7 linked regions of the Homo sapiens genome follow. Changing the gene in region 1 together with any one later gene gives a genetic interaction. Each region holds a gene or a part of one and is shown in the gene's direction. Other genes may lie near its edges.

What was found.
Region 2: changes in SEC31A (region 1) and SEC24A together harm fitness less than expected from each alone (positive genetic interaction), as found in Homo sapiens cells (one large-scale study listed by BioGRID).
Region 3: changes in SEC31A (region 1) and ARL5A together harm fitness more than expected from each alone (negative genetic interaction), as found in Homo sapiens cells (one large-scale study listed by BioGRID).
Region 4: changes in SEC31A (region 1) and MAN1B1 together harm fitness less than expected from each alone (positive genetic interaction), as found in Homo sapiens cells (one large-scale study listed by BioGRID).
Region 5: changes in SEC31A (region 1) and ARFGAP2 together harm fitness less than expected from each alone (positive genetic interaction), as found in Homo sapiens cells (one large-scale study listed by BioGRID).
Region 6: changes in SEC31A (region 1) and SLC33A1 together harm fitness less than expected from each alone (positive genetic interaction), as found in Homo sapiens cells (one large-scale study listed by BioGRID).
Region 7: changes in SEC31A (region 1) and VPS45 together harm fitness less than expected from each alone (positive genetic interaction), as found in Homo sapiens cells (one large-scale study listed by BioGRID).

Annotation. Positions count from the first base shown.
Region 1 is NC_000004.12:82,880,722-82,885,011, reverse strand, and holds part of SEC31A (protein transport protein Sec31A), read left to right. Parts: intron 1-3,071; 5' UTR 3,072-3,075; coding exon 3,076-3,154; intron 3,155-4,089; coding exon 4,090-4,213; intron 4,214-4,290. UniProt on the Homo sapiens protein: Component of the coat protein complex II (COPII) which promotes the formation of transport vesicles from the endoplasmic reticulum (ER).
Region 2 is NC_000005.10:134,651,499-134,655,788, forward strand, and holds part of SEC24A (protein transport protein Sec24A), read left to right. Parts: intron 1-4,290. UniProt on the Homo sapiens protein: Component of the coat protein complex II (COPII) which promotes the formation of transport vesicles from the endoplasmic reticulum (ER).
Region 3 is NC_000002.12:151,797,964-151,801,816, reverse strand, and holds the end of ARL5A (ADP-ribosylation factor-like protein 5A), read left to right. Parts: 3' UTR 1-3,020; downstream 3,021-3,853. UniProt on the Homo sapiens protein: Lacks ADP-ribosylation enhancing activity.
Region 4 is NC_000009.12:137,096,649-137,100,496, forward strand, and holds part of MAN1B1 (endoplasmic reticulum mannosyl-oligosaccharide 1,2-alpha-mannosidase), read left to right. Parts: intron 1-1,179; coding exon 1,180-1,289; intron 1,290-3,047; coding exon 3,048-3,233; intron 3,234-3,848. UniProt on the Homo sapiens protein: Involved in glycoprotein quality control targeting of misfolded glycoproteins for degradation.
Region 5 is NC_000011.10:47,163,430-47,167,298, reverse strand, and holds the end of ARFGAP2 (ADP-ribosylation factor GTPase-activating protein 2), read left to right. Parts: intron 1-412; coding exon 413-539; intron 540-699; coding exon 700-793; intron 794-912; coding exon 913-1,031; intron 1,032-1,796; coding exon 1,797-1,817; 3' UTR 1,818-2,998; downstream 2,999-3,869.
Region 6 is NC_000003.12:155,851,089-155,855,864, reverse strand, and holds the start of SLC33A1 (acetyl-coenzyme A transporter 1), read left to right. Parts: upstream 1-1,437; 5' UTR 1,438-1,867; coding exon 1,868-2,642; coding exon of another isoform or gene 2,643-2,757; intron 2,758-4,776. UniProt on the Homo sapiens protein: Acetyl-CoA transporter that mediates active acetyl-CoA import through the endoplasmic reticulum (ER) membrane into the ER lumen where specific ER-based acetyl-CoA:lysine acetyltransferases are responsible for the acetylation of ER-based protein substrates, such as BACE1.
Region 7 is NC_000001.11:150,077,422-150,081,711, forward strand, and holds part of VPS45 (vacuolar protein sorting-associated protein 45), read left to right. Parts: intron 1-247; coding exon 248-358; intron 359-3,920; coding exon 3,921-4,055; intron 4,056-4,290. UniProt on the Homo sapiens protein: May play a role in vesicle-mediated protein trafficking from the Golgi stack through the trans-Golgi network.

The DNA of each region.
Region 1 (4,290 bases):
ATATGCACCAAATAACTATTAAATAACAAAGTAATTTTCATAAAGCAAAAGTTTCAGGAGATACCATGAGAAATTGACATAAATATATTAGCAGTAAGAGACTTAATTCACTGTTTCGGTCCAAGGCAGATCAAGTGGACAAAAAAGTAAGGATATAGGAGATCTAAACAAATCAATAAAGAGGACTTAGTTAATATATATTGAGCTCTAGGCCCTGAAAACAGAGAGCACCCCTTCTTTCTAGGTCCCAAGAACAATTCACAAAAATTCACTATATAGGCTCTATTGAAAGGAAAGGAGGAATTATAGGCATAGGGGATTTTAGGACAAGGGAACTACTCTGTGTGATACTATAATGACAGATACATGTTGTTATACATTTGTCAAAACCCATAGAATATACAACACCTAGAGTGAGCCCTCATATAAATTGTGGAGTTTCAGTGATAATGATGTGTTCATGTTAGTTTATGGATCGAAACAAATAGACCTTTATGATGTGCGATGTTGGTGGTGAGAAAGGTTATGTGGTTGGGAAATGTGTAGCAATTTTTTGTACTTTGTGGCTCAACTTTTCTAGGAACGTAAAACTCTAAAAGATAAAGCATATAGCTTTTTTTATTTTTAATCAAAATCCTATGAAAGGTGAAAAGAAATTTTTTTTTTGAAAAAAGCAAAGTCAAAAGATAGTCTATCAACTTAATAGAAAAATTGTCGAATGATGGCCGGGCGCAGTGGCTCACCCCTGTAATCCCAGCACTTTGGGAGGCTGAGGAAGGTGGATCACCTGAGGTCAGGAGTTCGAGGCCAGCCTGGCCAACATGGTGAAACCCCGTCTCTACTAAAAATACAAAAAAATTAGCCTGATGTGGTGGTGTGTGCCTGTAATCCCAGTTACTTGGGAGGCTGAGACACCAGAATCGCTTGAACCCGGAGGCAGACGTTGCAGTGAGCCGAGATCGCCCCACTGTGCTCCAGCCTGGGTGACAGAACGAAACTCCATCTCCAAAAAAAAAAAAAAAAGAATAGAAAAGAAAAATGGTCAAATAATACATGACTAGACAGAAGAGATGACAGAAAAGGAAATATGTTTACCCATAGTCATACAAAAAAAAGATGTTATACATCATTTATAGTATTACTATACAGAGCTAACATTTTTATTTTTCTCTTTTTTTTTTTTGAGTCATGGTCTCACTCTGTCGCCCAGGCTGGATTGCAGTGGCGCAATCACGGCTCACTGCAGCCTCAACTTCCCGGGCTCAAACAATCCTTCCTCCTCAACCTCCCGAGTAGCTGGGACTACAGGCGTGCACCACCATGCCCAGCTAATTTTTGTATTTTTTCTAGAGATGGGATTTCACCATGTTGTCCAAGCTGATCTTGAACTCCTGGGCTCAAGCAATCCACTTGCTTCGGCTCCTAAAGTGCTGGGCTTACAGGCCTGAGCCACTGCACCTGGCCTTTCATTTTTTAGTGTTGGTATGATCTAAAAGTGTGACAGTATGCTCTGATAAGGCTGTAGGGCAATAAGTAATCGTATATTACTGTTGGTGGTATGAAAAGGCACAATTGCCATAGAGGACAACTTGGTAATATTCATCAAAATTAAAATTGCATTAACCTTTTAACTTAGCAATTTTACTTCTGGAAATTTATAGCTGTCCCTTTTTAATGAAATAACGTGCAGATGACCATTTATTTCAGCACTTTTTTGTAAAAATAGCTAAAAACAGCTTAGGTGTTTGTTGGTATTAGACTAGGTAATTATGGTACATCTTATAGTGCAGTACTATGCCATTTCAATATATTTATGTAAAAATAACAAAGATCTTTAAAAAGTACATAATACTATACCGTTGTAATTTTTCCATCAAAGTAACTTTTTTTTTGAGACCGAGTCTCGCTCTGTTGCCCAGGCTGGAGTGCAGTGGCATGATCTCGGCTCAATGTAACCTTCACCACCTGGGTTCAAGTGATTCTTCTGCTTCAGCCTCCCAAATAGCTGGGATTACAGGCATGCACCACCACACCTGGCTAATTTTCTTGTATTTTTAATAGAGACGGGGTTTTGCCATGTTGGCGAGGCTGGTCTCGAACTCCTGGCCTCAAGTGATCCAACTGCCTCGTCCTCCCAAAGTGCTGCGATTGCAAGCATGAGCCACCATGCCTGACTCCATCAAAGTAACTTTAATGACAGAAAATACGTAAACAAGTGGTATATGGGATTATACCTTGAAGTGACCAGTTTTCTAATAATTTCTACTTTATCTTTAAAATCTGTGGGCTTACTATATTCTCTCTAATATGTTGTAACTTTGAATTAATTTTTTAAACTGCTCTTATCATTGAGTAATCCTACTCCAGGAAGTTGCACCTTATTTATTTTTTGGCTGCTCTTACCCGTAATGTTTTGTCATCCATCCTAGTTGGATAAACACATGTGTAGCAAAGTTAATTCTTCAGGTACTACCTTATTATTTTTGTGGGCTATTTTTCTAGACTGATTCAACTGAAGAACTATAATCTGTAAACAGAATAGCCCAGTATTTGTCTCAAAATGGTTTATCAAGTTTGTCTTTTTTTTTTTTTTTTTTTTTTTTTTTTTTTGAGATAGAGTCTTGCTCTCTCGCCCAGGTTGGCATGCAGTGGTGCAATCTCAACTCACTGCAAGCTCTGTCTTCCGGGTCATGCCATTCTCCTGCCTCAGCCTCCTGAGTAGCTGGGACTACAGGTGCCCGCCACCACGCCCGGCTAATTTTTTGTATTTTTAGTAGAGATGGGGTCTCACCATGTTAGCCAGGATGGTCTCAATCTCCTGACCTCGTGATCCGCCCGCCTTGGCCTCCCAAAGTGCTGGGATTACAGGCATGAGCCACCCGGCCTCAAGTTTGTCTTCTTTCTAATGAATATATCCAACAAATGACACCTAAACCGATTTGATTTATTTGCAGTTGGGCATTACTAATGTTGTAGTGGTTTGTTCAGTATGTTTCTATTTAAAATATCTGTGTTCTGTGTTAGACATTCAAGTCATTCAAGGCTGTTTCTGTATAAAATATTCCCTTTAGCAGGATGAAGTTAAAGGAAGTAGATCGTACAGCCATGCAGGCATGGAGCCCTGCCCAGAATCACCCCATTTACCTAGCAACAGGTAAGTTCAAAGGAGAGAAGATAGTATGAGTTACCTAATTTCTTCTCTTCTGCACCTAGCTTATTCAGTTTAAGCTTTATCTTCTCTAGAAAGCCTCTCTCTCCCTGGCAAGTTACTGACATTCTATCAGCCAAGTTTAGTGTTCTTCCTCTGTGTTCCCATAGCATTTTGATCATGATGTGTTACATCTAAAATATTTTCCTTCACAGGAATTGTATTTTATCTTTATTCCTCCAGTATTAAGCACAATAGATGGCATGTAAAAAAAACAGTTAATATCAGTTTGAATGAATGAAGAGCAATTTTGATGTTAGCATTTTTATATAAAAAGAAATAGTTATATCATATATGTCTATAAGCAGATATAGTAAATCACGGGACTTTTTTTTTTTTGAGATGGAGTCTTGCTCTTTCGCCCAGCCTGGAATGCAGTGGCGTGATCTCTGCTCACTGCAAGCTCCACCTCCCTGGTTCCTTCCATTCTCCTGCCTCAGCCTCCCAAGTAGCTGGGACTACAGGCGTCCACCACCATGCCTGGCTAATTTTTTGTATTTTTAGTAGAGATGGGATTTCACCATGTTAGCCAGGATGGTCTTGATCTCCTGACCTCATGATCCACCCATCTCGGCCTCCCAAAGTGCTGGGATTACAGGCATGAGCCACCGTGCCCAGCCCCCATCACGGGACCATTTTTACAGAGATTTTTAAATATATACAGGCTTAAAAAATTATTTACACTACCCACTCTTATAAACATCCTCTCCTAGCCCTGTGCCAGAATCTCATTGCTATAGTAATTTAAGCATCTGCTCAATGGCATATGTGCAGCATTCATGAGCAAGAGAATGGAAAACATGCTTTTAACTTCTGTTTTGTATGGTTTCTCTGATCTTTTATTTTTGTGTGTATAGTTACCATAAATATATTTTCTATAGGAACATCTGCTCAGCAATTGGATGCAACATTTAGTACGAATGCTTCCCTTGAGATATTTGAATTAGACCTCTCTGATCCATCCTTGGATATGAAATCTTGTGCCACATTCTCCTCTTCTCACAGGTATGAGGTTCAGCTTTAAATTCATGTGATTATTTAATTATATATTGTTCTTGATTCCTAATTTGTCTATAATTATG
Region 2 (4,290 bases), on another chromosome or scaffold:
TGGCCAGGCTGGTCTTGAACTCCAAACCTCATAATGATCCGCCCACCCTGGCATCCCAAAGTGCTGGGATTACAGGCATGAGCCACCACGCCCGGCCTAATGTAAAGATATATGTATATTATATATATAATGTTTTATATATATTTTGTAGAGATGAGTCTCTCTATGTTGCCTAGGCTGGTCTGAAATTCCTGACCTCAAGTGATCCTCCTGACTCAGCCTTCCAAAGTGCTGGGATTAGAGGCATGAGCTACCAAGCCTAGCCTGGGTTGTTTTATTGTTCATCCTGCTAATAATACAGAGAGTAGGGATATGGTATCAAGTTGGAGAACAGGATATTTTTCAAGAAGGTGAGAAAACGTTTCAATGCTGGGATCTAGTTTTGCTTAACTATTCCAAAGCAGTAGTTGATGCTTGCATATTCTGTTGAAAACTCTTTTTTTTTTTTTTTTTGATGGAGTTTCACTTTTGTTGCCCAGGCTAGAGTGCAATGGCTCATTGCAACCTCTGCCTCCCAGATTCAAGCAATTCTCCTGCCTCAGCCTCCTGAGCAACTGGGATTACAGGTGCATGCCACCACACCCGGCTAATTTTTGTATTTTTAGTAGAGACAGGGTTTCATCACATTGGTCAGGCTGGTCTCAAACTCCTGACCTCAGGTGATCCGCCCGCGTCGGCCTCCCAAAGTGCTGGGATTACAGGCGTGAGCCACCGCGCCTGGCCGAAAAGTCTTAAGTATTTAATGAAGTTTGCTTAAATTACATATTACAGTATAATTAGATCTTCAGTTTGCTTTTGTTTTTTGTTTTTGAGATAGTCTTTCTCTATTGCCCAGGCTGGAGTGCAGTGGCGTGATCTTGGCTCACTGCAACCTCCATCTCCTGGGTTCAAGCAATTCTGCCTCAGCCTCCTGAGCAACTGGGACTACAGGCATGCGCCACTATGTCTAGCTAATTTTTGTATATTTAGTAGAGACGGGGTTTCGCCACGTTGCCCAGGCTGGTCTCGAACTCCCGAGCTCAGGTGATCCGCCCACCTCGGCCTACTAAAGTGCCGGGATTACAGGCGTGAGCCACTGTGCCTGGCCAGTTTGGTGTTTTTTGTTTTTGAGACGGAGTCTTGCTGTGTTGCCAGGCTGGAGTGCAGTGGTGCGATCTCAGCTCACTGCAACCTCCACCTCCCAGGTTCAAGCGATTCTCCTGCCTCAGCTTCCCGAGTAGCTGGGGTTACAGGCACCTGTAGCACATGCCACCATGCCTGGCTGATTTTGTATTTTGTTTGTTTGTTTTGTTTTGTTTTTGTTTTTGTTTTTTTGAGACGGAGTCTCACTCTGTCACCCATGCTGGAGTGCAGTGGTGCGATCTTGGCTCGCTGCAAGCTCCGCCTCCTGGGTTCATGCCATTCTCTTGCCTCAGCCTCCCGAGTAGCTGGGACAATAGGTGCCCGCCACCACACCCGGCTAATTTTTTGTATTTTTTTTTTTTTTTTAGTAGAGACAGCGTTTCACCATATTAGCTAGGATGGTCTCAATCTCCTGACCTCGTGATCTGCCCGCCTCTGCCTCCCAAAGTGCTGGGATTACAGTTATGAGCCACTGTGCTCGGCCTAATTTTTGTATTTTTAGTGGAGACGGGGTTTCACCATGTTGGCCAGGATGGCCTCTATCTGCTGACCTCATGATCCTCCTGCCTCAGCCTCCCAAAGTGCTGGCATTACAGGTGTGAGCCACCATACCCGTTCCAGTTTCGTTTGTTTGTTTGTTTTTTAAAGAGCCTGGGTCTTGCTCTGTCACCCAAGTTGAAGTGTAGTCACTTGATCATGGCTCACTGCAGCCTCGAACCTCCTGGCTGAAGTGATCCTCCCACGTCAGCCTCCTGTGAAGCTAGGACTACAGGCACATGCCCTGAAACCTGGCTAACTAAACAGTTTTTTTTAGAAAACAGAGCTGCACTCTGTTGCCCAGGATGGTCTTGAACTCCTGGACTCAAGTAATCCTCCTGCCTTGGCCTCCCAAAGAGCTAGGATTACAGGCATGAGCCACAACATCTAGCACAGATATTTTATATATTATAGTCAAAAGACCTCACCAGGTGTGGTGGCTCACACCTGTAATGTCAGCACTTTGGGAGGCCGAGGTGCTAGGATTGTTTTAGCCCAAGAATTCAAGACCACCCTCGGCAACATAGTGAGAACCTGTCTCTACAAAGAATTTTTAAAAAATAGGCATGGTGCGGGCCCAGTAGTCCCAGCTACTGGGGAGGCTGAGACAGGAAGATCACTTGACCCCAGGAGGTCAAGACTGCAGTGAGCTACAATTGCACAACTGCACTACAACCTGGGTGACATGGCAGTATCTTGTCTCAAAAATAAATAAATAGGCCGGGTGCAGTGGCTCACACCTGTAATCCCAGCACTTTGGGAGGCCAAGGCAGGAGGGCTGCTTGAGCCTAGGAGTTCAGACCAGGGTAGGCAACATAGGAAGACCCCATATCTATAAAAAAGTAAGAAAAATTAGTCCAGTGTAGTGGTGCCAGCCTGTGGTCCCAGCTACTCAGGAGGCTGAGGTAGGAGGATCACCTGTGTCCAGGAGGTTAAGGCTGCAATGAGCCATGATCATGCCACTACCCTCTAGCCTGGGCAACAGAGTGAGAACCTGTCACAAAAATAAATAAATTAATAAAAAACAAAAGACCTAACAGTAGCCTTTTTCAAAAAAAAAAAATATATATATATATTTTTTGAGACGGAGTCTCACGCTGTCACCCAGGCTGGAGTGCAGTGGTGCAGATCTTGGCTCACTGCAGCCTCTGCCTCCCGGGTTCAAGTGATTCTCCTGCCTCAGCCTCCCGAGTAGCTGGGACTACAGGCGTGCACCACCATGCTCAGCTAATTTTTGTATATTTAGTAGAGACGGGGTTTCACCATGTTGGACAGGGTGGTCTCAATTTCCTGACCTCGTGATCTGCCTGCCTTGGCCTCCCAAAGTGCTGGGATTACAGGCGTGAGCCACTGCGCCCAGCTGAGAGGTTTTTCTAAGTCTTTGTGTATACATATTTCCTTTGCAAAAATTGATAGCAGACTACAAGACCTTAAACTAATGGATCTTAATCTGATTATCATGTATTAACGCTAAAGGCAAATAATGACTCCCACCATTAATTAGTGCCTTTATTGACTGAATCAACTTGCAAAGCCAGTTAGAAACTGCAGTTTTGTTTTGTTTTGTTTTGGTTTTTCAGAAATGGTCTCACTTTGTCCCCCAGGCTAGAGTACAGTGGTGCAGTCTTGGCTCACTGCAGCCTTAACCTCCATGGTTCAAGCAATCCTCCTGCTTCAGCCCCTGAAGTAGCTGGGATTACAGGTGTGCGTCACCATGCTTGTCTAATTTTTTTGTGTCTTTAGTAGAGATGGGTTTCACCATTTGGCCAGGCTGGTCTCGAACTCCTGACCTCGTGATCCTCCCACCTTGGCCTCCCAAAGTGCTGGGATTACAGGTGTGAACCACTACGCCTGGCCCAGGCTTTCCTAAAGAAACGTACAGCTTTTTGGCCAGGCTGGTCTCAAAATCCTGACCTCAGGTGATCTGCCCGCCTGAGCCAAAGTGCTGAGATTACAGGTGTGAGCCACCGCACCCGGCCACATGAGATTTTTTACTAATGCAGATTCTGGGATCCTTTTGAATCCTATGAAATAGGATTTTACAAAGGTGGGACCTGGGATCTCAATTTGTACCATTATTATAGCAGGTTCCTCTGATTCTGAAGCTGCTGGTTGGGTGGGAAGCACTCATCTGCATTCATTCTTGCCTCTAACTTTCTAATTTAGCTTCTTTACCCACACATCCCAAAATTGTCCTTAATAAGGCCACAAGGCTGGGCGTGGTGGCTCATGCCTGTAATCCCAGCACTTTGGGAGGTCAAGGCGGGTGGATCACAAGGTCCGGAGTTCAAGACCAGCCTGGCCAACATGGTGAAACCTTGTCTCTACTAAAAATACAAAAATTAGCCGGGTGTGGTGGCGTGCGCCTGTAATCCCAGCTACTCAGGAGGCCTCAGCCTCCTGAGTGATTCTCAGCAGGAGAATCACTTGAACCCGAGAGGTGGAGGTTGCAGTGAGCCGAGATCATGACATTGCACTGCAGCCTGGGCGACAGAGCAAGAATTCATCTCAAAATAAATAAATAAATAAATAAGGCCACAAATGGCTTCCTGGTTATTAAATAGAAAAATATTTTTCAGTTCTCATTTTCCGAGCTGCATTTGATACCTTTGGCTGTTATTTTGTTTTTAC
Region 3 (3,853 bases), on another chromosome or scaffold:
ACTCACATGTTTTAGCATATTTGAGAAAAAAAAACTACCTTCAATATCAGCCTTTTAAATTTCATGAAGATTTTGGTGAGGAATAATAGTATATAGTTTAAGTATTGACAAAACTTTGAAAGTTTCTTTCTTTAAAATGGGAAATACTCAATATCTAAATCCAGGTCAGGCATGGGATATCAGTATTTAACATTGGATGTTTTATGTTTTATATTTATAATGTTCAAAATGCAAGCATAACATTTAATATTTGTCCACATGGTTTTACAAAAGTAAATCTTAAATTACTAAGCTTTTCCCATATGTTCTCGTACTTTCTCAAATCCCTATAAAGAATTACTTGTTATCTATTAAAAATCTCCTTTACCCAAATCTGTATTATGGTTTCGCCAGACAAATATTATGTGATGTAGCCCAGAAAATCCACACCTTTTGTCCTTTTTATGTTTTAATTTGAATAATCATGTGCTTAGTCCCTTGGATTACTGCCACATCAGTTTAACACGATATCAGCACATTCCCTTGTCATCATCAAGGTGTTGGCTCAGATTTATTCTTAATTGGATGTTTAAAGCATGTACTACCTTGTTACAGTTGGTTTAGTGTAGTGGATTATTGACATGACATCATGAGAAGATGTGTAATTTTATACCACATTTATAAAACATGATTTTGTTTTCTACCCTTCAAGGTAAACATTAAAAATAAGGTGGTACTTGTGTACTTGTACATAAAACCAAAATTATAGTTGGGAAAAAAATAAATTTATATATGAAAATGTCAAAATCATTTTAAAAGTATTATTTTCAAATAAAATGGAGAAGCTGGTGAAAAGTCATATTGGCAATTTTTATGTAGTTTAAGTGGAATTAAGCAGAGGGAGATGCTTTTGGGTTTTTAATATGCCACTTCTGAGTGAAAACATCTCGTGGAGTCATTGTGTTCAGCTCTGAGAAGAACAAAGATTCATAGTTCTGTACATGTGGCTGGATTTAAATATCCTGTTTTTGATACTAATTTTGAAAGTCATGTAACTTCTTTTGATATCTGGGCAAAAGTAACCATATGCTATAAGCATTTGAATATGTTTAATTTTATCATAATAGCATCTGTAAAAGTACATCTTACACATTATATAGAGGGTTCTTGTTTGAAATTTTCAGTTCTCTTTATCTTCCCAGTACCTCTTGGTCCTCATAATGGGCAAAGGATACAACGAAGGCAGGTTGTATAGGGGTTATAGTGGGGAAGTGGATAGGGGATTCATTTTCTTATGTGACATTTTGCCTTAAGAATATAAAAGTGCTTTAGCACTGATGGCTGGCATTTTTAATATAGGCAGTGAAAGTGACTTTAGAAGCATGGGATGAAATAGAGGGAAGAAGAGTTTTTATTTTCTGGCCTTTAAAAAGTGCCTAGTAGGTCATTTGAGACCCAGAGAAATGCACAGAGCTTGAGCAAAGGCATGAAGTCCCTGACATTGTTTTCCTTTTTGTCTCAGCATATAGTATTAAGATGCCTAGAAATAGGACTCTATTGTTCCCTCTTGTATAGGCACTTTACATTTCTTGTCACTACAGCAACCACATACAGTACAGACAACCTCCAAACCTGTTTATATTAGTGTAAATAGAAAATCTATAGACAACTTTCTAGTTTTCTCTGGAGGCATTTTTGGGAATGTACGTGTAATAGGCTCTGCTTTGTATACAGGAGATAATACCACATCATCGGTTATCTCCAAACTCCAGTCTTCTCTCAACTGCCCAGTTGTATGTTGTCATCAATCACTTTTTCAAGGCTGGGTAGAGACAAGTTTCTCCTCGTAACTTTGACCTCTCCCACTCTCCAAATGTAATCTGGACCTCATTGCTTTCAAGGTCAGCTTCCCCATAGCTCAGGTATCCTTTGCTCTCCTGTATCTTCATTTACTATTAGTGAAGAGATCTCTGTCCTGGAGGTTATTCTAAACTTTCTTTGTAACTATTGTTATAGACAATGGTTTCCAAACCAGTGGTTTCTATGTAGCTTTTCTAGTTCCTTGCTATCTTCTCACCACTGGCTTGAGGTAGTGATTTGGACTTTGCTCATTAGAGAGCATTATCAGAGATGTGGAGTCCATCAGAAGACCAGCTTGCAGTGTGTATAGCATATAGATGCCAATATTAGAATTCTTTAAATTATATTTAACATTTTCATGCTTCTTAATTTAACTTCACATGTTGGGAAGTAGATTCAGAAAGATAGGAGAAATACCCAGACTCTACCACTTCCGTGAGCTACTAGTTAGGCATGGGCAGGATTAAGTTTTATGTGTATTATCTTCCCACTACCAAGAATGGTTATGTTTCACAGAATACCAGTTCAGTTTGATTTGGAAAAAGATGCCAAACCAAATTTATATGTAGTCTATAATCTAAGGGCATTCTTGAAACTATTGCCCACATCCCATTTTTTTTTTCATGTTTACTTACAAAACAGAGATAAACATTAGATGTCTAAAGGAGTTAGTAATGAAAAGCCTATCCTTAAAAAATAAACCTGTTGAAATGGGCTTTAAAGACATCGAAATAATCACTTGTCATGCATTGACTGTAAATGCAGATAGAGAAATATGTCTTTGAAGCTCCACTTACACAAAAATAAAACTTGTATATCATGCTCCCTCAAAGAATGTGCGATAGATTATTTTAAGACCATGATAATAGAGTAAAAAGGAAAGAAAGCCAGAAATTACAATTTTGGATGCTAAAAAGTAACTTTCTAGTTAACCCTAAAGTCCTGTCAGATTGTGAAGAAATGTTCCAGGATACACTTGGATTAGTTATGCAGTATTTCTTATCAATGTCTAGCCCTTGTGTATTGTTCTGAAAACTAAAGTTTAAATCTTTATGCTGTTGCTTGCTAGATATCCTGTTCTTTGGTAGAAAATTCCCATAGTCTGTACTCAAGAAGTGCCTAAAAATGGATTTGTGTTGATTTTAAGCCCATCTAATAAATTATATGTATTTTCTATGGTATCGTATGGCTTGTCTTAACTGATGACACAGCCTAGAGGATTTCTGTCACAATTTGTGCTTTATTTGAATACAAAGTCTTTTTTTTTTTTTTTTTTTTTTTTTTAGACAGAGTCTCACTTTGTCGTCCAGGCTGGAGTGCAGTGGCGCGATCTCGGCTCACTGCAACCTCTGCCTCCTGGGTTCACGCCGGTTGTCCTGCCTCAGCCTCACAAGTAGCTGGGACTGCAGGCGCCTGCCACTACGCCCGGCTAATGTTTTGTATTTTTAGTAGAGATGGGGTTTCACCGTGTTAGCCAGGATGGTCTCAATCTCCTGACCTCGTAATCTGCCCGCCTCAACCTCCTAAAGTGGTGGGATTACAGGTGTGAGCCACCGCGCCTGGCCTAAATAAAAAGTCTTGAAATGGAAGATATTCACCTAACCCTCAACAAACCATGATGTAATGAAGCACGAATCACACCATTTTGTCTCTTTCCTAATTCAAATAGGTCCCTGGCATTAGTTCATGCCGAGACTAGAAAACTGAACCCTAGTACTGTTTTTTAAAACAGTTTTAACAGAAAATTAAACTGTATGTTTGAAATCATAAGTAAAAGTTTGTTGCTTGCATAAGAGTAGCCTCTTGATTCTCATAGTGGTAATTTTGTGTCATATCATTTAGATGTTGAACCATTTCATTTGTGCATGTGTATATGTGCCCAAATTCATCCTCTTTGTTTAGAATCTGCTTACAAATAAAACTAATAGAATCTGAATACATTTATCATATATTCTTCCAGGGTTTTTCTTAACTGACTATAGAGAGTGGCTGTAAGTTCTGGGGCAAAGCTTGA
Region 4 (3,848 bases), on another chromosome or scaffold:
CAGGTGCGTGGGGATGGGGAGCCAGGCTCAGAGGTGGACGCTGGCTGCCTGGGCCACCTCCTTTCCCGAGCCCCATCTGGTCGAGCAGAGAGCAGAGGGAGAGGGAGTTGCCCGGTGCCCAGGCTCCCAGAGTGCTGTCCTCTGCCCGGTTCGTCAAGTCCAGGTAGTGGATCCCAGTGGAGCTTCGGTGCTGGAGGCGTCTCTGCCTCGTTTCCGGCTCCATGTTACGCTCTTAGAAACGGAGTTGATTGTGGTTGAGGCGGAAGGAAGGGTTCCCCGCAGACGTCCTCTCTCTTCTACAAAGTGTGGGCAGAGCCAGGGCCAGTGAGGGCTGCTGTGCAGGAGTGGCCTGAGACAAGCGCTGTCCGCCGTGAGAGATGGGCTCCGAAGAAACGGGCCCAGAGGCCCTGAACTCAAGCGCGTGGTGAGAGGCGTGGACATGTGCATGTGAGGGGTCCTCACGGCCAGGAGGAGAATTTGAGGGCCACTGTGCTCTAGTTAGCGTTGGCATGAATGCAAGGACGCTTTACTTCCAGAGCAAAAGAGGATTTGACCTCAGCTTGTCAAAAGTGCCACGTTTGTACTCCCAGCATGTAAGCCATCTGTGGTTGTAAGAGGCCTTTTGCTGATCCTGGGACAGATTCACCACAGGGCCCCAAGAGAACGCTCGGGCCCAGCCACAGTTAGGAGGTTGCGCGGCAAACCCTCTACACAACCTCATAGCTGTTCCTGATGGCCATTGGACAGAACTCGATGGGGAGTTTGAGTGGCCATGCGTCTCGTGTGTAGGGACAGCCCCCGTCTGTGTGGCCATCCTGGCATCTTGGGGCCACCTCACTGTCACTAGTGCTCCTGTTTGGATGAAAGATTCTCTACTCCTCCACCATAGAGGCCCCCCGCCTCCGGCCTCTGCAGAGGGATTTCTCACGATTCTCCAAGCTCTGGTCTCTGACCTCAGGCCAGCCTTGACCCTGGAGCAGTGCTGTGGTCTTGGCTCTCAGGCACGGGAGCTCAGGACTGAACTGTGTGTTTCCTGCCACTCAGCAGCCTGCACCTCAGGATGATGGGGCCGCTTTGGGTGCAGGGCTGTGCCTTGGCCGTGGGTATGGAGCGTGGGGGTGGGAAACATGGAGCCACAAATGTTTGACGGCAGCTGACACCCTTCCTTCTCCCCCGAAGCTGGAGGGGAGCGGTGATCGAGCCTGAGCAGGGCACCGAGCTCCCTTCAAGAAGAGCAGAAGTGCCCACCAAGCCTCCCCTGCCACCGGCCAGGACACAGGGCACACCAGGTGAGGCCACACCTGCACCCCTTCCTCCCCGGGCGCTCAGGGGCTGGTGGCTGATGGGTGCAGGCTTCGTCTCAGCCATGGTGGGTGGCGCCCCCGCCCTGGTGTGCACCTTGCCCTTCAGCATCCCCCTGTTGTCTGAGTCCTCACAGGCTCTGCAACCTTGGTGACACCATGTGGCTCTTGGCCTGCTGTCCCTGAGCACATGGCTGCAGAAGAAGGTGTGTCTGAGAGGTTTGTGTCTGGGCCAGGCTGCCCCACGGGATCCCTGGAGACTGCTGCCCGTGCTGTGTCCCCTGTCTCGGCCTGGCCAGTCCCAGGCAGCTCTGGGGGCCACTTCATTCTCAGCACCGTTTGTTGGGGGCCTCCCAGGTGCGGGCCTTCGGCCAAGCTCAGTGCATGACCTGAGGCCTCTTTCAACCTCATGACACCCTCTGACACGATAAGCCACTCACCCTCCCGTTCTCCAGACTGAAAAGCAGGGCTGAGGACAGCCACCCCCAGAGTCGTTTGCTTGTCTGTGGGGGCTCATGGCAGGTCGCTGAGTCTGGAGCCCTGCTCTCATCATGCCCCCCAGGTGTCTCTGAGGTGGGGAGGGAGCCCAGAGCCAGGACTCCCAGCCCCGGGCCTGTGAGGGATGTGTAGCAATCTCTGCGGCATCAATGAGGGCAGAGGCAGAGGCAGAGGCATAGACATGCCATGAGCACAAGGAGGCCTCAGAACCTTTCCTGAGAGGACGTGTGGTTTGGTGCCGTTACACACGTGTCAATCCACACATTAGTCAATGTTGGCCGGGCGTGGTGGCTCACACTTGTAATCCCAGCACTTTGGGAGGCTGAGGTAGAAGGATCTCTTGAGTCCAGGAGTTCAAGACCAGCCTGGACAACACAGTGAGGCCCCATCTCTACAAAAAAAAAAGAAATTTATATATATGTGTATATTTGAGACAGAGTCTTGCTTTGTCACTTCACTGCAACGTCTGCCTTCTGGGTTCAAGCAAGTCTCCTGCCTCAGCCTCCCTAGTAGCTGGGATTATAGGCACCCGCCACCACACCTGGCTAATTTTTGTATTTTTAGTAGAGACGGGGTTTCGCGATGTTGGCGAGGCTGGTCTCAAACTTCTGACCTCAGGTGATCTGCCCACCTCGGCCTCCCAGAGTACTGGGATTACAGGCGGGAGCCACCGTGCCCAGCCAAAAAAATTTAAAAAAAGGGAACGAAGGGACTGTAGCGCGTGTGCACAGTGCGATTCCCGTGGAGCACCTGAAGCCCACGTGGCAGAAGGAGCGTGTTTGAGTCGAGGATGTTCATCGCGAGGTCTGCACCCGTCCGTGTTTCACATTCTGAGTTGGCACCACACTCACCCACGTCTCCACAGGCTGTGCTCACTGTGCTGTCCCAGCGCCCTTGGGGCAGCCACCCTTGTCCCTTTGGCCAGAGGCCACCGAGGCCCAAGGAGGGTGTGCCTGCCCAGGCGCCAGGTGGAGGTGCATGGGCCCCAGTCAGGTGGTCGGGTGACAGGTGCCATCCTGTGCAGTCTCCAGAGGTCTCAGGCCCTTGGCAGGCTGTGTTCTCCCTGGGGGCTGCTGCAGCCTCTGTGGCCCTGGCCTTTGCTGTGCCCACCACCGCCCTTCCCGTCGTCCCAAACCCACCGTCATCTTTGCCCCATGGGGGTCACAGCAGTGCTCTGCCTGAGGGTGTCCATCTGTGCCGACGCCAGGACCACGTCCGCCATGGCCTGTGCTCTCTCCCCCCTACTAGTGCATCTGAACTATCGCCAGAAGGGCGTGATTGACGTCTTCCTGCATGCATGGAAAGGATACCGCAAGTTTGCATGGGGCCATGACGAGCTGAAGCCTGTGTCCAGGTCCTTCAGTGAGTGGTTTGGCCTCGGTCTCACACTGATCGACGCGCTGGACACCATGTGGATCTTGGGTCTGAGGAAAGGTACCTGGTGCTTTCTGGGGAGGGGCTGAGCCCTCCGTGTGGGCCTCGTGTGCTGAGGCAGAGTGTGGGTTGCACACGGGGTGAAAGCTGCTGTTTGCATCTGACCATGGGTTTTCCCTTCTCCTGGGTGCGGGAGTGGACGTGTTGGCTGTGGTCAGTTCCTGTTCTTGTCCAGCCACCCAAGGCACACACAGGGCCGCTGTCCCCAGACCTCTGCAGGAGTTGAGTGTGGACTCTTTGGGGGACGTCCAAGGGACATTCCCAGGCTGTGCTTCTCTTGCAGCTGGGGGTGGTGGGATGAGTGACTGTGGGGCCCCGCTGGTCCCAGATCTCAGCAGCATCCTTCATAGACCAGCACATCCACTTTGAATTGGGAGTATGTGTCTTCGGTTATTTAAGCGATAATTTAAACATTTGCCTAATTTTTTGAATAGGTTGAAGACCACCAGTAAACGACGTGTGTAATTTTTTTGGGTCGTAGCCTTTGGTTGTGACCCATTGGTGGCCATAGCAACTGCACTGCTGACTCCGTTTTATTAACAAATGTTGACGACTTCAAGATTTACCCCCTTGAGATAGGAGGTGATATTGAAGCCCTGCAGGGGAACGATAACG
Region 5 (3,869 bases), on another chromosome or scaffold:
AGGGGGCAGTTTGCTATTCATAGTTATGACAAGAGTAGGTATAAAGCCAGGCAGACCGACACATATGCTCATTGTAGTACTAGGCAAGTTGTCACTAGGATTAGGGTAGCAGCAGTTGTGTGGCCTCCTGAATGCTGACGAAGCTGTGTGCTTTTGGGCAGGAGCCTAGGCCACTGCAGGCTGTATTTCCACCCTGCCTAGTGCAGGTTCCTAAGCTCTCTGGGCCTTGGCCTCAATGTGGAGAAGGGTGACTCCTCACCAGGGGAGAGGGGCCCAGAGCCACAGAGCCACAGACAGAATGGGACCTGGTAACCCATCACCAAAAGGCCACTGGTGCTCTGTTTGGCCTCTGTACTCTGCCTCCCCTGATGATAATGGGAGGAGTCCGAGATATTCCACATCTTCCCCTCAGAGCCACAAACCGGAGGGAAGTGGAGAGCCGGAGCTCAGGCCTCGAGTCTAGTGAGGCGCGTCAGAAATTCGCAGGAGCCAAAGCCATCTCATCTGACATGTTCTTTGGGCGGGAGGTGGATGCAGAGGTAAGTGGGGCTGTCTGCCCTGAGGTCCGAGGCAGCAGGCAGAAGCATGAGCTTTCTCCCTGCCGCTGCTTTGGGCTTTAGCACCAGGAGGGCCTGGCCTGTGTGAGTCCTTGGGTCATCAGCCCCAAGATCCCCAGGCCTGGCCTTTTCCTCACCACAGTATGAGGCCAGGTCTCGGCTGCAGCAGCTCTCAGGCAGCAGTGCCATCAGCTCTTCAGACCTCTTTGGGGACATGGATGGAGCTCACGGAGCAGGTAGGGCCCTGGTGGGGTGGCAGGCACCAAGTGAGGCCTGGGAGCAGGGCGGGAGGGCCCTGCTGTGACTGGGAAGGGCTTCTTGCTGGGCTCTGGGTCACCCTGCTCTTGTTTTACAGGAAGTGTATCTCTGGGGAACGTGCTGCCTACAGCGGACATTGCCCAGTTTAAGCAGGGTGTCAAGTCTGTGGCTGGGAAAATGGCTGTGCTGGCCAATGGTGTGATGAATTCCTTGCAGGTGAGGCTGAAGTGGGGCCTAATGAGGAGTGCTGGGAGGTTTGCCCTTCGCCACCACATAGAGACACTGCTACTGCTCAGCCCCTCTGAGCCTTAAGAGCATTTTCGGCCGGGTGTGGTGGCTCACGCCTGTAATCCCAGCACTGGGAGGCTGAGATGGGTGGATCACTTGAGGTCAGGAGTTTGAGACCAGCCTGACCAACATGGCAAAACCCCGTCTCTACTAAAAATACAAAATTAGCTGGGCATGATGGCGTGCACCTGTAATCCCGCTACTCGGGATGCTGAGGCAGGAGAATCGCTTGAACCTGGAGGTTGTAGTGAGCTGAGATCATGCCACTGCACTCCAGTCTGGGTGACAGGAGTGAAACTCTTGTCTCAAAAAAAAAACCACAAACGAAAAAGCAAGAGTCTAGAGAGAGGCATTTTCTTGGAGGGCAGCTTCCTTCCTTTCAGCTCCGTGCCAGGGCCGGGCCTCTCCAAGATGCCTCTGTGTCTGCCATGATCTTCCCTGGCCTTGTCACCTGTACCGCTCTTTCTCTTCTCTTCCCAGCTTCTGTGAGGCCAGGCAGGGCTTCCCTGTTGTCGGGTGCCCGAGTGGCCGCTGCCCCAGCTCTCACCGTGGACTCCTGCCTCACCGGGCTGTCCAGCCCCTGCCTCCCCAGTCTTGCTGTGGGGTGCTGGGGCAGGCAGTGTGTTTGCTGGGAAGCTGCTGCAGCTTAGAGCCTCTGACTTTTTTTTTTTTTTTCTCCCCCCTCGCCCCCAGGATCGCTACGGTTCCTACTGATCCGAGCTCTGTGACTCAGGCTTACGATGGTGACGGCAACAAGAACTCCACAGTTCCCAGGCTGGGGATGCTTTGCCTTGTGGAAGCTGGGGAGGATTTGTTACTTCGTATGTGTGGTGTGTGTGTGGGGTGGCCTTTGAGGCGCTCACTCCTGTGAGGGGAATGGTCAGTACCAGCCCTTGTCCTCTGCCTGTGGACTGAGCCCTTTATTCCCTCTCACACCACCCTCCGTGTGTTAGACTCTTGTCCTTCTGTCCTGCCCCCACAGCTGCTGCTCACTTATCCTGCCATACTGGGAAAGGGGGTTCCCCCACGATGGCTTATTCTGGGTCCAGACTTTCCCCAGGTAGGGAAAGCGGAAGGTAGAAGGCTTTTTTTGCTGGCTCTAGGGTTCTTCTAGTTCGAGGCCTTGGGTCCCCATCCTCTGGAACCAGGGGGAGGCCTGGAAGGAGTTCACTGTAGACCCGTCCCATGGGGAAAGAGGCTGCGGACTTGCTGCTGCTGCTGCTGCCAGTGGCCTCTTCTGGGTGCCAGGAGAGGGGAAGGACCTTTGTCTGGGCGTTACCAAGGGCTGGAAACTTTACCTGGTACCTAAAGGTTTCATTTGGGATCAGACCGGAGACCCTTGGGTTCTCCCGTCTCACCACCCCTTTCTACAGTAAGCACTTGGAAGATTGTTTCAGGGTGTCTCAGGGTCCCTCTGTACCATCTGCTGTGGAATGCAGGACCCTCTGTGACATTCTTTATCCCTTCTTCCCCGGGTTGGTGGCCATGGAGGGTCTTGTCTGCTGTGATTCGACTCTGGATGCTGTGAGCTTGATGCTGGCCAGGGAAGCAGAGGATGTGAGAGGCAGAGGCAGGCTCCTGGGGCTGAGCTCCTTCCTCTGCATCATTCTGGGCTTGGCCTGGACAGCACCCGCCAGTGAGAGCTGTGGGCCTCACCCTCTGGCAGCTGAGCCAAGCACTGTCATTCTTGGTGCCATCTTCCCCTGCCGCACCGGCAGTCTCAGCCCAGCCCCCACCTTTGGGTTGTAGGTTGGGCTCCCAAGCAACACAGACCACTCTTCCCCTTGCCCCTCCCCCAGAGGGACTTGACTTTCTTTCTGGACTGTTTGTATTGAAACAAAGTGGTGTCAAAATAAAGCCCCTGCAGGGCCTGGCTCCCTGTTGGTCTGAGTGAAGCAGTGTCCTCTGGATCCTGCCTCCCTGCCCAGTGCCGGCCCCTGGCCTCACTCTCTGGGCTCCCACCGGTAATGGTAGGGCGTCGGTACCGAAGCTGAGGACACTCTCTCCAGGGCCTCCTGCTTCTCTCTTCTCTGAAAGCCAAAGGCCCCTGGCTCCTTGGCTCTGTGCTGCCGTGAGGTCCGGTGCAGCTTCGACCTCACCACCCTGTGGCACGCAGAGGAAAGAGCTGGCATTAGTTGGCCCTTTAACTCGCTGGCTGAGGGCGAGCGAGCAACCTCAGCAGTCCTGCCCCTTGTCACGGCAGTAGGCTTGACTGGGGATGGGTTTCAGTGGAGTTTAAGAAATATTTAACGCCGGGTACAGTGGCTCATGGCTGTCATCCCAGCACTTTGGGAGGCTGAGGCGGGTGGATCACTTGAGGCTAGGAGTTTGAAACCAGCCTGGCCAACATGGTGAGACCCCATTTCTACTAAAAATACAAAATTAGCGGGGTGGGGGCGGTGTGGTGCATGCCTGTAATCCTAGCTACTCAGGAGGCTGAAGCAGAAGTCACTTGAACCCGGGAGGCAGAGGTTGCAGTGAGACTAGATCGCGCCACTGCACCCCAGCTTGGGTGATAAAGTGAGACCCTGTCTCAAAAAAGAAAAAATTACATATATATACATACACACACATACTCTTAGACGTTAATGGGACCCTTTAAATTTAGGGAAGAAAAGGTGTGTGTTTGTGTGTAAATCCTTAGCTTGGCCACCCCTTTCTCTTGGGGGCTTCTGAAACATCTCTGTGCCACCTTAGGAGTCCTCACGGTAGTTACAGACCACTGGTCTGGGAAGTGGATGATTAGAAAGGATGGGCAGAGGGAGC
Region 6 (4,776 bases), on another chromosome or scaffold:
CGATCCCGGTTCACTGCAACCTCCGCCTCCCAGGTTCAAGCGAGTCTCCTGTCTCAGCCTCCCAAGTAGCTGGGGCTACAGGCGCGCGCCACCAGGCCGAGCTAATTTTTTGTATTTTTAGTAGAGACGGGGTTTCACCGTGTTGGCCAGGATGGTCTCAATCTCTTGACCTCGTGATCCACCCGCCTCGGCCTCCCAAAGTTCTGGGATTATAGGCGTGAGCCACTGTGCCTAGCCTGCCATTACGTTTGTAATCCCAGCACTTTGGGAGGCCGAGGCAGGCGGATCACGAGGTCAGGAGTTCGAGACCAGCCTGGCCAACATAGTGAAACCCCGTCTCTACTAAAAATACAAAAATTAGCCGGGCGTGGTGGCGCGTGCCTGTAGTCCCAGCTACTCGGGAGGCTGAGGCAGGAGAATCGCTTGAACCCGGGAGGTGGAGGCTGCAGCGAGCCGAGATGGCCCTACTGAACACCAGCCCAGGCGACAGTGTGAGATTCCTCTCAAAAGAAAAAAAAATAATAATCTTTCTGCCAGAGGTGAGAGAGCAGAAAAAAAATTAATCAGATTCTCAAATTCCTGTACGTCTCTTAGTAGAGACGGGTTTCTCCTTGTTGGTCAGGCTGATCTTGAACTCCCAATCTCAGGTGATCCGCCCGCCTCGGCCTTCCAAAGTGCTGGGATTACAGGCGTGAGCCACCGCGCCCGGCCACAAGACGTTTTATTGCAACATAAAAACAGGATGTAACGAGTCTTCCAATCACCAATGTAATTAGAGTTGGTTACCAAGTTTCCCCACGCGTCTTCCACCATGAGGGAGAAACGGACTGCAGACAAACCTAGCACCCCTTGAGCAGTTTAATTCGTACTATAAATATGTAGGCACCGTAAGGACGCGATTCTCCAGTTTGCCAGGCCTTTTTCTATCCTTTTGGGGGCACAAGGCGACCTTGCCTCCTGATTCAAAAACTTCGTAAACGTCAATCCTTCTACCCTTTTCTGGTCAGCCCACGAAAGCAGCAGCATGGCACAACTCCCAGCCTAGAGTTCGGGCACTGCCTGTCGTCAGCATAACGAAGAAACCTACACCCACGAAGACTTCAGACCCCACGTGATTACATCACTCAACCACCAGCGCTGGCCTGGAGGAACCCGCTGTCACGTGACCGCTCGTGCCCAATGACCGAGGCCCACGCTTTCCAGACCGCCACAGTCGCTGTCACAGGGCCTGAGTTTGGGCGGCGCCCCGCCCCGGCCGCACGGTGCGCCGGCGTTAATCCTCCCCGAAGGTTCCGGCAGCCAAGATTGCAGGTTCCCACCAAGCATTGTTTCCGAACTGGGCCACGAGAGCGTGTCCCTGATTGGCTTGCTCTGGAGGCTGGGAAGGGACCTGTTAGAGACTGGGACCACTTCCTGAAGCGCGAGGCAGGAAGTTATATGCTTTTTCTGGAGTCCTGTAGAGAAAGTGCTCTCTGCCGCATTGATAGCAGCGAGAGCTGGAGGTGTTGGGTCGGGAGACCAGCCGTTCGATCCCGCCGCAGGTAGGAGCTGGTTTCCATCCTGGCACCACGGCACACACCTCCAGCCTCGAGCCCGGCGCTGCTGCCCGGGGGTCTCCTTCAGGCTCTTTGACGCCGTTCCAGGGGGCACCTATCCAGGCATCCTCTGGGCCTCTAGCCAGAGGACTGGCTCCCGGCTTCAGCACTCCGGGCTGCAGTAAGAAGTGCCCTTATCGCTCTGAGCCCTGCCACCATCCCGTGAACCACCGAAACCCTGGTCCAGCGCGACAGCCTTGGACCTGGGACTGGACGGATCCAAAACGCTCAGCCTCGGCCCCCCACAGACGGGGCTCTGCATCGTCTCTGATATGTCACCCACCATCTCCCACAAGGACAGCAGCCGGCAACGGCGGCCAGGGAATTTCAGTCACTCTCTGGATATGAAGAGCGGTCCCCTGCCGCCAGGCGGTTGGGATGACAGTCATTTGGACTCAGCGGGCCGGGAAGGGGACAGAGAAGCTCTTCTGGGGGATACCGGCACTGGCGACTTCTTAAAAGCCCCACAGAGCTTCCGGGCCGAACTAAGCAGCATTTTGCTACTACTCTTTCTTTACGTGCTTCAGGGTATTCCCCTGGGCTTGGCGGGAAGCATCCCACTCATTTTGCAAAGCAAAAATGTTAGCTATACAGACCAAGCTTTCTTCAGTTTTGTCTTTTGGCCCTTCAGTCTCAAATTACTCTGGGCCCCGTTGGTTGATGCGGTCTACGTTAAGAACTTCGGTCGTCGCAAATCTTGGCTTGTCCCGACACAGTATATACTAGGACTCTTCATGATCTATTTATCCACTCAGGTGGACCGTTTGCTTGGGAATACCGATGACAGAACACCCGACGTGATTGCTCTCACTGTGGCGTTCTTTTTGTTTGAATTCTTGGCCGCCACTCAGGACATTGCCGTCGATGGTTGGGCGTTAACTATGTTATCCAGGGAAAATGTGGGTTATGCTTCTACTTGCAATTCGGTGGGCCAAACAGCGGGTTACTTTTTGGGCAATGTTTTGTTTTTGGCCCTTGAATCTGCCGACTTTTGTAACAAATATTTGCGGTTTCAGCCTCAACCCAGAGGAATCGTTACTCTTTCAGGTAGTGTATTTAAGCTATTATGGTGTTAGGTTTATTTATCCTTTTGAAAGAGTGTGTGACGTTGGAGGGAAGCTCATTAATTTACTGGAAATCATTGTATGGGAGATAACTCAAGGTAAGTTTTCTGTTTCGTCCAAATGAGCTTCTTTGAAATATTAAAGCCAAAATGAATGATATTAGAGCAATCAAATGATCACTATGCGGTTAACAGGGAGAGGCAACCCATCAAATAACACAACCGAGTCCAGGGATTCATGCCACTTGCTTAATACACAAATGCACACTTTTAAAAAGTGTGGCTCATATGGTTCACATTTTTCCTTTTGTCTTGTTGGTTTTAGGTTTCTAGCTCTATACTTTCTAATCCATTTCTACCCCTACCGTTGTACCCAGAATCCAGCCTTCTAGTGAATGGAACAGGGTTTATTCGTTCAAACATTATTGAACCAGCTAAGGGACGGGATTCTAAGGCCTCTAATGAATAAGGCAGAGTTCTGCACTCAAGAAATAAGGAAGATGAACATTTTAGGAGAGTTCAGAGTTGCCAGTTAGTAACTGCCTTTGGGAGTCAGGCTTCACATTGCAGATAACATTTGACTTTGTTCTTGAATAAGATTCCACGAGGCCAGGAAATGGCACACCAGAATGCACAACACAAAGTAAAAGTGCACTGAGGCAGGAAAGTACAAAAAAGTACAGGACATTGCCTAAATTGTGGAACTGGGTTTGGGAAATCGTGCTGAGAAAGGCTGTGACTAAATTAGTAAGATTTTCTTTAATTACTATGGGAAAAGAGTTTAAAGTTTGTCCTGTAAGTAATGGAGGGTAAGTTCTAAAAAATTTCCCTGTTTCTCTGCATGAGTAAAACACATGTAAGTTTTTCTCTTTTTTCTTTTTTCTTCTTTTTTTTAATTGAGATAGTTGGGGGTCGGGGGGGCTGTCTCACTATGTTGGCCAGGCTGGTCTTGAACTCCTGGCCTCAGGTGATTCTCCCCCTCCTTGGCCTCCCAAAGTACTGGGAATTATAAGTGTGAACCACCCCACCTGGCCTAAGCTTTTTTGTTTGTTTGTTTGTTTTTAACTTTTGTAACAACTAGAAAACAAGTAAAATGACCAATATCAGGAATAACAATGTCAGGAATATAGTGAAATTCTTCATTCTGTCAGTGATGATGAATTTAGGGGATTCTGTTTTGAAATTTAAGCAACTGAACTTCTCAGCTTCTGTGCTACCTTGGAAATTCACAGTAGAGTAAATGTCCAGGTATGTGGTGGTGGTAGGAGGTGTCACAACTACACTATTTTCCTGCAATCTTATTCTCACAGACATCTAACCTTATGTACACCTCCTCAAACTGCTAATGAGTGAGCCACTATTACTGGTGAAATGATGGTGATAGTACTTTTTCCTCAGTTGTTTGGTTGAGAGATAATTGCTTTGCACCCAGGTAGATTTGTCTCAGTGTTCTGGGGTTCCACTCCTGCTTTATGAATAATTCACTGCTGGCCGGGCACAGTGGCTCACACCTGTAATCCCAGCACTTTGGGAGGCTGAGGTGGGAGGATCACTTGAGGTCAGGAGTTTGAGACCAGCCTGGCCAGCATGGCGAAACCCCATTTTTGAGACTCTGTCTCAAAAATAAATAAATAAATAAAATAAAAAATAAGTCACGACTGGGCACAGTGGCTCACACCTGTTATCCCAGCACTTTGGGAGTCTGAGGTGGGAGGACTGCTTGAGCTGAGGAGGTAGAGCCAGCTTGGGCAATACAGCAAGACCTCATCTCTACTAAAAATTAAAAAAAAAAAAAAAATAGCTGGGTGTTTTGCGAAGGCCTGTAACCCTAGCTACTCAGGAGGCTGAGGCAGGAGGATTGCTTCAGCCCGGGAGATTGTGGCTTCAGTGAGCTATGATCCAATCATTGCACCCCAGCCTGGTCAACAGAGTGCAACCCTGTCTTAAAATTATATATATGTATTTTTTATATGGAGTCTCCCTCTGACACTAGACTGGAGTGCAGTGGCAGGACCTCAGCTCACTGCGATTTCCACTTCTCTAGTTCAAGCCATTCTCCTGCCTCAGCCTCCTGAGTAGTGGGATTACAGGCATGTGCCACCACACCCAGCTAATTTT
Region 7 (4,290 bases), on another chromosome or scaffold:
CAAGAAACATTCACAAGCTATTTAACTTTTTTTGGTCCAGTTAAACCACTTATAAAATAGGGTTTCATATCCTAACCTCTTAAATAGTATGCTACTAAACTTTGTGAGACTTTTGAATCCTTCATATGGAAGATCTATGTGGGTGCAAAGAACTATTGTTAAATGTAGTGTTTATTAATTTCCTATTTATATCATTTCTATATGTAACTAGATGGTTGCACAAACCATCTTTCTCTCTCACCCACAGCAAGTGATAACTAAAGAATATGAACTGTTTGAATTCCGTCGGACAGAGGTTCCTCCATTGCTCCTTATTTTAGATCGCTGTGATGATGCCATCACCCCATTGCTAAACCAGGTACAAAACCCTTTCTTGGCATAATAGAAGGATAATTTTAAGTGATATTCATCAAAATACAGATAGGGAAGTAAAAACATGGTCCATTTATTTGCCTCCTTATTTTTAGCTATTCTTGGTTTTGCTTTGTATTTCCTGGTGTTTTGGTATCATGATTCTTCCATCCACTGTCATCATAACTCTTCTGCTTCATCTCTCCTGTACCTTTCTGCCAGTACCTCCACCCCTAATCAAGACAGCTTCTTAATTCTGTAGATTCTATTTCCCTGTGTTTCCTTCTGTCTCCTCATTTCCATGCTTACAGCCATTGCCTTGGTCTAGATCCTAATCTCTTGCAAGAATATTGAAATAGTCATCTACTTCGTTCCCTACTTTTTATTTCTTCTCACTCCAAATGTTCCACAAGTACAATTTCCTAAAGCACAGCTCTATCTTATTACTCTTGGCTTAAAAAACTTCATTGGTTCCCATTTGCCTACTAGGTTAAAAAGAAACTCCTGAACTTGGCATCCAAGAGCCTTCACAATGTGGGCTAAACCTCTTATAAAACCTAGAGTTCACCACTTACATAGATAATGCCACATGGTTTCCTGCCAGCATGCTTTTACTGTGACTGCTTTCTAAACTCTAGAATGTTTGGAATACCTTCTCTTCCCATCTTCACCTATCAAAATACTGCTGTTAAAACCACTCAATCTGGCCGGGCACGGTCGCTCACGCCTGTAATCCCAGCACTTTGGGAGGCCAAGGTGGCTGGATCACCTGAGGTCAAGAGTTCAAGACTAACCTGGCCAACATGGTGAAGCCCCGTCTCTACTAAAACTACAAAAAAATTAGCCGGGTGTGGTTGCACACACCTGTAGTCCCAGCTACTTGGGAGGCTGAGGCAGGAGAATCATTTGAACCCAGGAGGCGAAGGTTGCAGTAAGCTGAGATCATGCCACTGCACTCCAGCCAGGGCGACAGAGCAAGACTCCGTCTCCAAAAATAAATAAATAAATAAATAAAATGATTTATATGAATAATAGCAAAGAATAAAAAAAAGAAGAGCCGGGCGCGGTGACTCACACCTATAATCCCAGCACTTTGGGAGGTCGAGGTGGGTAGATCACCTGAGGTCCTGAGTTTGAGACCAGCCTGGCCAACATGATGAAACCCTGTCTCTACTAAAAATACAAAAAATTAGCTGGACGTGGTGGCAGATGCCTGTAATCCCAGCTACTCAGGATGCTGAGGCAGGAGAATCACTTGAACCTGGGAGGCAGAGGTTGCAGTGAACCGAGATCATGCCACTGTCCTCCAGCCTGGGCAACGAGAGCGAAACTCTTGTCTCAAAAAAAAAAAAAAACACTCAAAAGCCATCTCCAACATCCAGCCATTCTTCAACATCTCGAAGCCTGTATTCTTTCAGTCAGATATTGTTCTTATCTCCTGAAAATCCCTGTAGACTTGTAGACCTTTGTGTCTCTCTCATGTCTCATGCTGTACTTGCCATGTTGTAGCTTTGGTTGTTTACATCCTCTCCTACGTTACATATTTCTTCAAGGCAGACTGAGTCTCACCAGTGTTTTTTCTCCTTCAAGTATAAGAACAGTGCACATAGCGGGTGCTCTATTAATAGTGATTTTGTATGTGTGTATGTATTTATTGAGACAGAGTCTCTCTCTGTCACCCAGATTGGCGTGATCTCAGCTCACTGCAACCTCCGCCTCCCAGGTTCAAGCAATTCTCATGCCCCAGCTTCCTGAGTAGTTGGGATCACAGGTGCACACCCCCACACCTGGCTAATTTTTGTATTAAATATTTTTAGTACAGACAAGGTTTCTGTCTAAATATTGGCCAGGCTGGTCTCGAATTCCTGACCTCAAGTGATCTGCCCGACTCGGCCTCCCAAAGTGCTAAGATGACAGGCGTGAGCCACCACGCCCGGCTGTGACTTTGTATTTACAGAGAAAGGCACAGTCTATGTTTCAGTTTCTTCCCAGCTTGTACTAATGTTAATGCTAAGGGAAATCTGTGGAGTGAAACTTCTCTGTAGTATAAAATAGCCTTGTATTCCTAAAATTCAAAGTAATATATGTTCACCAAAGAAACTTTTGATAATATCAAAAAGTAGAAAGAAAATTAATTGCCTATTATTCTGTCTCCCAAAGAAAAGCAACTATTTATCCCACAGATTTCACTGGGGACTTCTTTTGTGCCACGTACTAAACTAAGTACTAGAGATAAAAGGTTAAAAGTTACAATTTCTGTCCTCAAAGAGCTCATGGTCCAATTATGAGAAAAATAAACATAATTTTAATTGTAGAGTAAGTGCTAGAAGCATGTACAAGAAGCTATCCATAAAAGCATAAAACATTTTGTTGTACGTTTTTTTTTTTTTGAGATGGAGTTTTGCTCTTATTGTCCAGGCTGGAGTGCAATGGTGTGATCTTGGCTCACTACAACCTCCGCCTCCTGGGTTCAAGTGATTCCCTGCCTCAGCCTCCTGAGTAGCTTGGATTACAGGCATGTGCCACCATGCTCGGCTAGTTTTGTATTTTTAGTAGAGATGGGGTTTCACCATGTTGGTCAGGCCGGTCTCGAACTCCCGACCTTAAGTGATCCACCCACCTCAGCCTCCCAAAGTGCTGGGATTACAGGCATGAGCCACCATGCCCAGCCTTGTTGTACTTATTTTAAGTGCGACTTAATGGAACTTGCTTTTTCAAGAATTCCTTTGGCAAATCTTTTAGGAAATAAGCACCTTCTTTTATAACCTTCTAAATTATTTCTTAATAAATCTAGTTTTCTTAAGATAAAATATGTATATAAATATTTCTAGCATTTAGATTCTAGATGCAGAAGGGAACATGCTAGAAAATACTTCATTTTGTCTAACAGACCTATGACTGAAAGTAATCTATTCTCCATAATTGGTGAAAAGGGAAAATTTGGAGATTTCTCATTTCCAGTTTTACCAAATAAATTCTCAATTTGTGAGACTGGAAACCAGTCCTTCCTCTCATCTCCCCTTAGGTAAAAATATAAAATAAAATGGGTTCAAAGGTAAGTTTCTGAATATCCCAGTGTTTTGATCAACTCACAAGGTTTTTCTGATAATATTAGTGTTCCCAGGACAAATATAGTACCACTCAGATCTGCAAGAACACACTTCTCATGCTGCAGAAAACCATAGAAGCATACAGGAAATGGTACAGCTTGTAACTGCAGTACCAATATAGCTCTATCTGTGAAGCCAAAAATATACTCTTAATTCACAGGCAAAAAATTGGAGCTAATAATAGCTCTAATTTGTTTTCTTTCTATCAAGAATATTAATCTTGCTGCCCTTTTTCCAAAAGTATGAAATCTAAAAGTATTTTGACTTTTCTTCAGTGTTTAATCAATTAAAATGACAGTCTTAATGCTTATAGCACAAAGTATGAATAAAATTTAACTCGAGAATCTTCATGTAAAGAAGACTAGTTAAAGAATGTTATCAGTTTTTATTTGTTTTCCTGAACGTTTACTATTTCCATATTCTGTCAGTTACCTTTTTTTTTCATAATTCTTTATTTAGTGGACATATCAGGCCATGGTCCACGAACTACTAGGCATAAACAACAATCGGATTGATCTTTCCAGAGTGCCGGGAATCAGTAAAGACTTAAGAGAAGTGGTCCTATCTGCTGAAAATGATGAATTCTATGCTAATGTAGGTGGTTTAAATTTTTTTAAATTGTCTTTAGTTGTTTTTATGTAAGAAGATCAATATTGGCTTGTTAGTATAGGGGCAGGCATGGGATTTCATGTGAAAGGATGATAGGGGCATCCTGTGCATAAACTGCCTCTGAAGGGAAGGCAGAAGACTTGGATTCTGACCCTTTAGCAATTTTTTTTCATAGAGATCACGTAGTTATTTACTTCTCTCCCCTCCAGTAGCTGTTTGT